Linked DNA regions of Homo sapiens: region 2 is linked to region 1. Evidence: fine-mapped expression QTL. Tissue or cell type: whole blood. Region 1 holds a variant in brackets; the other region holds the start of a gene. All regions are shown on one strand. Distances are from middle to middle.

Evidence for each region. PIP is the estimated chance that this variant, and not a neighbour inherited with it, causes the effect.
Region 2: NNT starts here. The variant in region 1 is fine-mapped to the expression of NNT in whole blood (INTERVAL, PIP above 0.99).

Annotation. Positions count from the first base shown.
Region 1 is chr5:43,709,008-43,714,007 of GRCh38, forward strand. No RefSeq gene overlaps it. Among named protein-coding and RNA genes, the nearest start is that of NNT-AS1, 110 kb to the left of the region's middle. The variant G/A (reference allele first, on the strand shown) is at 2,269.
Region 2 is chr5:43,600,558-43,605,557 of GRCh38, forward strand. It overlaps NNT (nicotinamide nucleotide transhydrogenase), which reads left to right and starts at 2,623. Exons shown (of 22, transcript NM_182977.3): 1 at 2,623-2,737. It overlaps NNT-AS1 (NNT antisense RNA 1), which reads right to left and starts at 2,673. Exons shown (of 3, transcript NR_073113.1): 1 at 2,221-2,673. RefSeq lists an enhancer at 647-816, a cis regulatory region at 732 and silencers at 1,971-2,190, 2,454-2,543, 2,664-2,883.

The sequences.
Region 1 (5,000 bases):
AAAAATTGCCTAAAAGATATAGAGTCCAGTTTGTCCCTGGATATTTCATATTTTATCCATAGACAAAACCAGACTTTCAGAGAGCTGGACAGTTAGGCCACATTGTTTGGGTCACTGTGAAAAGCAGACATAAAGACATTGGAATGAAGAGAGTCAAAGTGATCTTGCTTGCCTAAGGTGACTATGAATTCAGAGGGGAGTCCACATGGCAGCAATAGGATAGTGGGGAGAAGAAGTGGTTGTCATGGACTTTGAGAAGAATTGAGGAAGGGGATGTGGATTTGGGGAAAGTAGGTGACCCTTAGGATGATGGTGGCTAGTTCTTTCCCCCCATAGAGAGAAGTGAAAAGGAAGTGGGAGCTCAGAGCAAGGAAGTTTGGGATGCGTAAGTTTCCCCTATGTAAAGATGGAATATGAAGATCTAATAAACTTTTTCTCACCCTCCTTCCTGTTGCATTTGGGAATATGAAAAATACAAAGTATCAGTGAGATATGATGTAGGGAATAATAAAAACCTTTGGAAAAGGACCATTTAGAAATTGAAATAAGGCCATTTTTTTCTATTCTCTTACTTCATTTTTGGTTTACTATGGGAAAAGCAGAACTCAGGAATGTCTACAGTCAGGGATAGAATTAGATTCCACCAGTGAAGTTTTGCACTTCATATTTTGCCAGTGATTACCACCTTGTGTTATGCTTTTCAGTGCCTTTCTGGAACTGAGTTTTTAAAAGCCAGTGAGTTATTGTCAGCCAGACTTGTCTTTTTTTTTTCCTCCCAGTTAGGGGGTGCACTTTTCACAAAAATACAGTGATTAACACTAATGGAGCAGGGTCCTGTGCCTGGTTAATTCTCTTTAGACTTTGATTCTAGTCCCCAGTTATACACATGGAGGCAGCAGCATCAGTGGGTTAGAACTGAAAGGTCATGTGTAAAACTCTCCAGAGAAAAGGGAGAATGTGACACTAAATCACCCCTTTGTGCTATGACAGGAGGGAGATAATTTCTTCCCCAGAGGGATGAAGCAGAATTTCATCCCTTTAGGATGTTTTGTCACTAGTCTGAGTTTAATGGAACACTGTGCTTCAGAAATCACTCCTTCTAGAAAGAGCCTTTTAAAGCTTTATTGACTCATGGAAAATTTTGTGTCCTTAAATTATAGCTAATGCTCTGGTTTTGTCCCATTGGGATATATATGGGCATGGAAGCTTACACCTAGTTCAGGTCCACATCCTTGTGTCTGATTGGGAGTAACTGCCCCATGAGCACTGGGTATAGCTATAGTAACTAGGAAATGTGTTTTTTTAAGGATTAGAATCACTATGGTAAATGAGACCAATAGAACATTCAAAGACTATAACACAAAAATCATATAGGTATACTATATGTGTAAGGATGTCAGAATATCTGTCCTGCCTGTGGTCCTTGTTGTAATGTGTCTTTCCCAGAATACTGTTTTGTACATGTTGCTCCAAAGGGTGGATTTTAGTGATGAACTCTTGATGAATATTTAGATGGTGGCATCGTTATGAAAAGTGTTACTGTTTTCTACAAAATGAATCACTTTTGGTTATGCTTACATTTCTAGAGTGTATCACCTCTTGATAAATTAAGCACAAAGGCATTTATATATAAAATATATATAAACACATATATAAAATATATATTATGTATGTATATATTATGTAAATAAATATACATATATAACCATGCAGGGTGGAGGAAGGGAAATGTATACTATATATGTTTCTCATTGTCTTCTGTTCAGGACTCATCTGGAATTTTATTCTGGCTCAATTTTTTTTCTTTTTTTAAGGTTATAGATAGAAAGACCTTGTTCCTTTATTTAAAGTGTTCAATGGGTGGATAATAGTAATAGCATCTACTAGTTAATGAGTACTCATTTTGTGCTAGGCAACATTCTATTAACAACCTATGGGTTTCAGTGCATCCTACAATAGCAAATGGCAGAGTTGGACTTAAACTGAAATCTGGCTGATGGCAAGGTCCACTTAACCATTCAGTTGACTTCTGTTAAAAAAAAGGGAAGCATGCAAGTCGTAAAAGGGAAAAAAAGCAGTTAAATTTCATCAAGAAGATGCCATTTATTTATAAAATGAGAGGAAGAGATGTTTCCAATTTCATAGAGAAAATAAGAGCATAATTATATGCCATTTTTACATAGAATTATGAAAGTTGCTGGTTATATAGTCATAATTTGCATTTCCACCCATTCTCTCTGTAAGCAGCTATTGCCATTTTTTTCTCAT[G/A]CACAAAATCCTGTATCCTGAGAATGCATCTTCCTTAGGAGCAGAAAAGAGGCAGCTTTGGAGCAGATTCGCCACCTTTCTGGGTTTTGCTTTCCAGGACAGTACCGGCTCCGCCTCCTCGCTTGCTTTGACTTCTTGCACATTCTTACCTCACAGCTGGTCAGACAAAAGCTTTTTGCTGAGGATTTTCATTTCTCAAAGACTACAAACTCGATGTGCCAAAATATGACTTCGTTTTCCTATAAGTTAAGTGAATTCCTCTCTTGAGCCTCTATATTCTCTGTTGATGTAAATTTGACCTTAATTTGGCGTGTTTCCTTCTCGTTCTCCTACTGCTGGGGACACGTCTTCATTCAAAGGCAAAGTGGGTGGGGACCAAGGTAAATGACGTAACATCACAGTTTGGTGGAGTGAGTTGTGTCCTGGTCTTCATCCATCCTGTCTGGCATTCCTTAGATACCTATTGTCATAGTCATAGCTAGTCTTGGTTACTGATATCTTTGCACACTGACATCCTCTGATTCTTCTTTGGTCTAAATGAAATAGAAATTACAAGATGTTTAATGCAGCGTGGAATGGGAAGGAAGAAATGCATGAAGTAGAGGGTATGGTAATCTCAACAGATTCTGGCAAATTTCTCCTATGACTACAACTTATATTTGGGGTGAAATTTTAAAAAGCCTCTGTAGGAAAATAGAATATTAGTGCTATTTTCACAAGGAAAAGAGTAGGCATTCTATTCAAATAATTTATGAAGGAATTGATCTAAGCAAAAAAAAAAAAAAAGTTAAGGAGGTGCCATTTAATTCATCTCCTGAGACTAACTCAATTGCTTCAGAAATCTTTACTTTGAGAAATTTAGCGAGACAGCGAATTGTTTGGGGGAAGGAATAAAAAGTGCTGCCCTAGGAGGAATGAAAAGTGCGCTGTCATCTCATTCCTGTTAGTTTTTTTTCAGCAATGCTTTGGTATTAAATGTATAGCCAAAAGTTGAAAGGAACCATTAATTCATAGTTGGAACACATCTCAAAACAAACACAGAAAGGTCAAAACACAGCTCTTTTGGTAAGTATTCTTTTAGGAACACAAGTTAGCATTTGTAGCCCATCTACTTTTTTCATACTGATGTATTACTCAGGAAATCTTTTCAAAAAAGTGATTTCTATGTATGCTGTTAATTGTAATTTTTACTAGAGAAATTGGAGCACAAAACATCACAACCTTCCTGTAATTAACCTGTGGCAGATGGAAGTTCAAGAATTACATCTTCTGCCAATTAAGGATATTTTTCTTTAATTACAAGTACTTGGGCATTTCAGTAAATGTAATGGTTTATATTTTATGCATAAGGGTTTTGCTTCTGTGGAAAAATATTTTTTTCCCCATAGAAATGAAGTTGAGCAAAATGGAACAAAGAAGACAGATGTGTAAAATTGCCATGATTTAATATTTTTATACCACCATCTGAGCATAAAATTAGACTATACTACAGGGAGAGCATAGAACAATAGCATCATTGGTGTTTTTGATGGACTTGAGCCTGTGGGATGAGAGGGCTTGTTGAGGTGGGACACAGATTGAGAAAGGTGAAGTGGCTACTGGTACGCATGGGGACCTTTCATTTTCCATGAGATGGGGAGGAAAACTCCCTGGAAAGAAGAGAGACCAAACAACCATTTGTGAGATGGGGGTGAAACCCAAACTGTGATAGTTCTTTTCAATTCAAAATAGTGGTAGGGGATATCAAAGGGGAGAAGAATCAGAGAGACCATGAGCATGAGATTTTTGGAAGGGATGTGGAGTAAGGAGTTGCAATTCAAACTAGAAGAAGCTATAAAAGGAACTAATGGTAGCAGTAAATGATATTTTCTAGATTATAAGGAGATGTGAGAAATTGCTTGTTTTGAAATGTTTTGAATTCTGTTCCTTCCACTGCTGACTTGGTTTGGTCTCCCATCTGTAAAATATATAATCAGGTAGCAATGATGAGCCCTAACATTTGTTATGTGCCATGTGCCAGGTAACATACACACATGACATGGCACCTGTCTCAAGAAGCTTGCAGTATAATATGGGATACATATAAGACATTAAATTACAATTTGGTGCAAAAACCAAATGATTTACAAGTTATGGCAGTGGCTTATAGAGGAATGATTCTCACTGCCTGTGGCAAGAGGTGAAATCTGAGTAGGGGGTTCTGGGGAGTTTCTGCAGAGGAAGTGTTCTAGAAGATACAGAAGAGATGGTTAGAGAAGGAAGGAACAGGAATTTTAATTTTCTTTTCCTCCTCCTCTTCCTCCTTGTCTTCTTCCTCCTCTTCCTCCTTCTTCATCTTCTTTTTTTTTTTAGAGGTGGAGTCTCACTATATTTCTCAGGCTGGAGTCAAACTTCTGGGCTCAAGTGATCCTCCCACTTCAGCCTCAAGCCAGGTAGGACTACAGGCATGCACCACTGTTCCCAGTTAGGAACAGGAATTTTTAAATGGAGGAGAAAGCATGTGGAAATTCACCAAATCAAGAAATTTCAAAGAAAACAGTTATCTTCAAATACGTAATATAATGTAGATTTTTAAATTAATTGTTATTGTTTTAAATCAAATTCTTGTGCTAGAGAACTGTATCATTTTTCAGGTTATTGTGAGGGGGAGGCATGGGGCCATGACTCTTGGAATAGTCATTATTTTTTTAATTGACTTTCAAAAGTTATTTGAAGATTTTGGCATTGACCAA
Region 2 (5,000 bases), 110 kb before region 1:
TAGCATCAGCTCATTTAGTCAGTTAACATTTATTTCCTAAAATCAAACACTCTTGATTGGTCAGCCTGGGAGAAGAGGGCTAAGATTAAGGTTAGTGATGGTTCCCTTAAAACCTGTCGAGTGTCTGCATTGTTAGACACACTGAAATCTAAGAATCCCATCTCTCTGGGGCTGTTCACTTTACTAATAATTATTTATAAAAGGGAAGCTGAGACAATAAATTGCCAATAACCATGTAACATAATAACCACAATGAAAAGACATTAAAGCTACCTTTTCTGTAGCCTGATTTTACCTAGATGGTGGGTTTTGGTAACAAGCCATCACTAGAGGTCAGTTTTTGATTACATGTCTTCTCAGGTTCAGCCTATGTTTTGATTTTTGGCTACTGGGCACCTCTCTGGTTTTTAGGCTTTAAAGCAGATCCAAATGTTATATTATAGTCTTGTAAATGTTTCATCCTTTTTGCTTCTGATAGATTAGAACTCTAATTATTAAAAACTATTTTTAAGCATTTGTGACTACAAAAACTCCTAAACTTCAAATGGTTTAAATTTTGATGTTTATTTTAATTTTAAAATATTTTAAAAATTATTCAATAATAGAACAATCTGTAATGAAAACTTACACATATGTGAGAGGTACTATTTTAAGATGAGAGTTTGCAGGTCAAATTAGTCAGGGAGGAAAGAGTAGAAGTCAGAGTGGGAAAGGCCCTTAAAACTTAATAGGGAATATCAAATCTCTACAAAAATTTTATTCAAGACAGTGTCTAAGACTTAGAAGCAACTAACTTAAAAGCAAACTTTTGGAACTTAATCCTATTTTCATTGGGGACTCCGTTTATGAATAATATGCTGTAATTATACGTAGAAGCTTAAGGACTGAAACAGAGCATTCCAAATGACAAATGTTTTCTCCTGAAGAAATGGCACCCAAATTATGTTGTACAAGTAAGCGGAATAAAATAATCATATGCTTGTTATTAAAATTATCATATGCCTAACATTCATGATTTTCAAAAGTGAAAAACAGTATGTTATCTTTGAGTTTGTTTTCATGTGATATAAATTTATAAGCAAGTCAAAATTAAATAATGTACTGAGCATTAATTTAAGCCAGGATTTTTCAGCCTCAGCACTATTGACATTTGGGGCTGGATAATGCTTCGTCGTGAGGGGCTGTGTAGTGTGAGGTGTTCAGTAATATCCCTGGCCCCAACCCATTAGATAGGTCCCCTCTCCAATTGTGACAACCAAAATGTCTCTAGACATTGCCAAATATCCCTCGGAACTAAATTGTCCCCAGTTGGGAACCACGAATTATTAATCCCTAAAAGACAAAGCAGCAACTCCTGACCCCTACAAAAAGTTTTAAATCAATAACTTAGTTTAAAATCCTTACTAAGTGGGATCATTACTAATCTCACTTCATTGTACCTTCAGTATCTGGAAACCGTCCCTATGGTCACACTTACCACGGCTCATTATTATTTTAAAACATGGGGCTGTGTCATTTCCTGTCTGTGAGTTTGGACTGCAGTGGGAATCCATTAGTTGAATGACCTTCTGTGTAGGTTAATCACAAGACAAGTTCTCAAACTAAGGGTTTCCCTGCGGCTCATTTCTTTTTAAAGTTATGGAATACCTGTTCTGCTTATACCTTTTAGATTCATAATTATTTTTCTTGTATCAAAATTTCAATTAATAGAAATAAATGACGTTACTGACACTTCATGATGATTAAGTTTTGGGCAAGTGAACCATTTTACACTCTATTTTTTATTCCTCCCACTTTTAGTCAGAATACACCTGCAGAATAAGTAACAGAACTGTGTGAAAAGAACGACTAGGTCATTACGGTTAATAGTTTTAGAAAAACAGCCGAGGCCTGGTCTGGAAAGCTCACAACCTCCACCCAGATGCTTTCCAGCCTCGGGGATATTCGTACTAGCAGTGACACTAGCCAGCTTCCTCTAGGCTGGCTCTGATGTTGGAAGACAAGCACGCAGATGTGTGTTACTTTTCAAGCCTGGACATCGTTTCTGAGGAATTTAACTCCACCTCTCCTGCCAGAATGGAAAATCAACGCCCCCCATTCCCGCCCTTCACCAACCCCTCTCCGCCTGCCCCTTTCCCTTGGGTCCTCTCTGTTACAGAAGTTCTGATTTTTCCTAGCGAGCTGGAGGAAAGGCAGGTACCCGGAGTGGAGTTATATTACCTGTTTCTTTGTTCTGATGGGACCCCAGAGAGGACATCACGCTTTGTAACTGGTTCTTCAAGGGGAGAAGCAAATGTGTCCCTGAAAACTTCAGCTGCCGCGTTTGGCACCAGGTTTGATTGACAAGGACTGGCGGAGGGAAAGCGCGGAGGCTGGGCTGGGGGCCGCAGGCCGAGGCAGAGACAAAGAGGTTTCGCCTGTCCCCGAGAGTGGAAGGGCCCCTGGGGGTAACTAGCCTTTGAGCTCAAAGGGGCATTTCGTGAGGTCGCCTTTTGGTTCGGAGAGCGCGCGGCGATCGGGTGGAGGGGGCCTGGCGGGAAGAAAGCTGGGGCGGGGAAGGGGCGCGGGCCGAGGTGGGAGCGGAGCTGCAGTCACGTGGCCGCCCGCCGCCGCGGAGTTGGGGCTGTTCTTCCGGGTTGGAGGCGCAGCGCCGCGGGGCCCAAGCCCGGGTCTGCCAGCGCGACGTCCTCTCGCGGCCCTCAGGGCACAGCCCAAGGCTGTCAGCCTCCCGGCCCAGGTGAGCGCGACGGCACTGGCGGGTGCGGGCAGCCGGGGCGCGCGCCTAGGGCGCAGCTGGGAAAGGGGCTCGGGCCTTTCCTGAAGACCACGGCCCTCGCCGGGAGAGAGACCTGTCAAAGAGCAAAGCGGGGCGGGGTCGGCGGTGTCCCGGGCGCAGGGTGCATTGGGGTGTCCGCAGGCCGCAGGCTTAGGTGGGGAAGAAGCACCGTGCCTCTTGGTGTCCCTTTCTCGTCTCCTGCTGGGGCGATGTCGAAGGGAGTGGGCTGGTGGATTTGGGAACTGGGTCCCCGAAGAGGGCAGGGAATGAGGCGGCAGCTGTGCAGGTGCAGATATTTGCAGCTTTGGGGGACAGCGAGAGTCGTACGGGGTCATTTCGGCCCTCAAGATCGGGGGTGGTGGAGAGGGAGGTCATAGAGGACTTTCGATGGGCGGTTCATCCAGAGAGGTGGCAGCTGGATGCCCTTGAGGTATGCTTGACCCTTGAGGGAGTTCGGAGAGGGTGTCCGGCTGGGGACATAGGAGATTGCGAGCACAAATTGTGAGTGTGAGTTGGGGCGGTCTGGCGGTGGTGGGTACAAGTTTCTGGGGCCTAGGCTGGTGAGGAGGAAGAGACAGCGGAGAGGGCGACCTGGGCAGAGCTAGTTCAAACTCAACAGCCGGAATGACTATTTGCAGCCGTGGCCAATCGGCTTCCTAGGGAGGTTATAAATAGCGGTCTCGTGCAGATGCCAGCGGGTGGCAGTTAGTTGCCGAGCAAGGGACGGCACCGGTGGCAGTAGCCGTGACACCAGTGGCTTTGGGTGAGGTCACGGCGCCTGCCAGCCGAAGCTGGCTCAGTAGGGTATTGTGTCCTTGCTGGTATGTCTCGCTTTTAAAAGCGTGACTTGTTTATGGTTGCCGGTGTCCTTTATTCACCCTGTGGCGCCGGCCAGTCCTTAGGTGGTCTGTTTGTCAGGAGTCTTGTAGGACAGACTTATTCGGAGAAGCGCGTGGGGCTTAGGTGCCTACCTACTCTTCTTATTTAAAGTGTGCCCCTTTTCTTCATTGCACCCCTTTTATTTGTAAACCTTGACTTTTTATTAACAGACAGTTTAGGATTGCCTTCTTTCCAGCAGGTGCGCTTAGGCTGCTTACCTTGGTGATAGAATCAGTTTTCCACAAGGCTACACAAACATTTCCTTTTCAAAGGAAATTTTCCGAAAATCCTTGGAAAATGTGCTCAATAGGTACTTAGGCTTAAGGTCACCTAGCCCTATTCATTCAGTCAAAAATACTGACTTCCTCTGTGTTGTGCAAAGCACTGGGGGAGAGTAATACCAAAGTGAATATAACAGCTGATAAGGATATTCTCAGTCCTGGCAACAACCCTGAGAGGTAGGTGCTGTTATTTTATTTTTTCAAGTCTCGCTCTGTTGTCCAAGCTGGAGTACAGTGGCACAATCACGGCTTACTGCAGCCTGGAACTCCTGGGCTCAAGTGATTCTCCCACCTCAGACTCCCAAGTAGCTGGGACTTCAGGCTTGCACCACCATGCCCTGCTAATTAATTTTTTTTTTTTAGCAATGGGGGTCTCACTGTGTTGGCCAGGCTAGTCTTGAATTCTTGGCCTCAAGCAGTCCTCCCCACTAGCCTCCCAAAGAGATGGCATTATAGGCGTGAGCCACCACCCTGGGTGGGTGCTATTATTCCCCATTTTAAAGATGAGGAAATTAAGTACAGGGAAGTTAAGTGACTTCCCAAGGTCACACAGCCAATAAGTTGCAGAGTGGGGCTTCCAATCCGCAGATCCAGAGCTGACTCTCTTAAATATCTGTGGTATCCTCCCTCTTTAGGTTGGGTGCTTTCCCTCAAGGATTTTAATATCTAATAGGGGAAATAACCCATATAAGTTACATTAAACATACATATGAAAGCAATGCTTAAAAAGTTGTGCTTTTGGGCCGGGCGCGGTGGCTCACGCCTGTAATCCCAGCACTTTGGGAGGCCGAGGCGGGTGGATCATGAGGTCAGGAGATCGAGACCATCCTGGCTAACAAGGTGAAACCCCGTCTCTACTAAAAATACAAAAAATTAGCCGGGCGCGGTGGCGGGCGCCTGTAGTCCCAGCTACTCGGGAGGCTGAGGCAGGAGAATGGCGTGAACCCGGGAAGCGGAGCTTGCAGTGAGCCGAGATTGCGCCACTGCAGTCCGCAGTCCGGCCTGGGCGACAGAGCGAGACTCCGTCTCAAAAAAAAAAAAAAAAAAAAAAAAAAAAAGTTGTG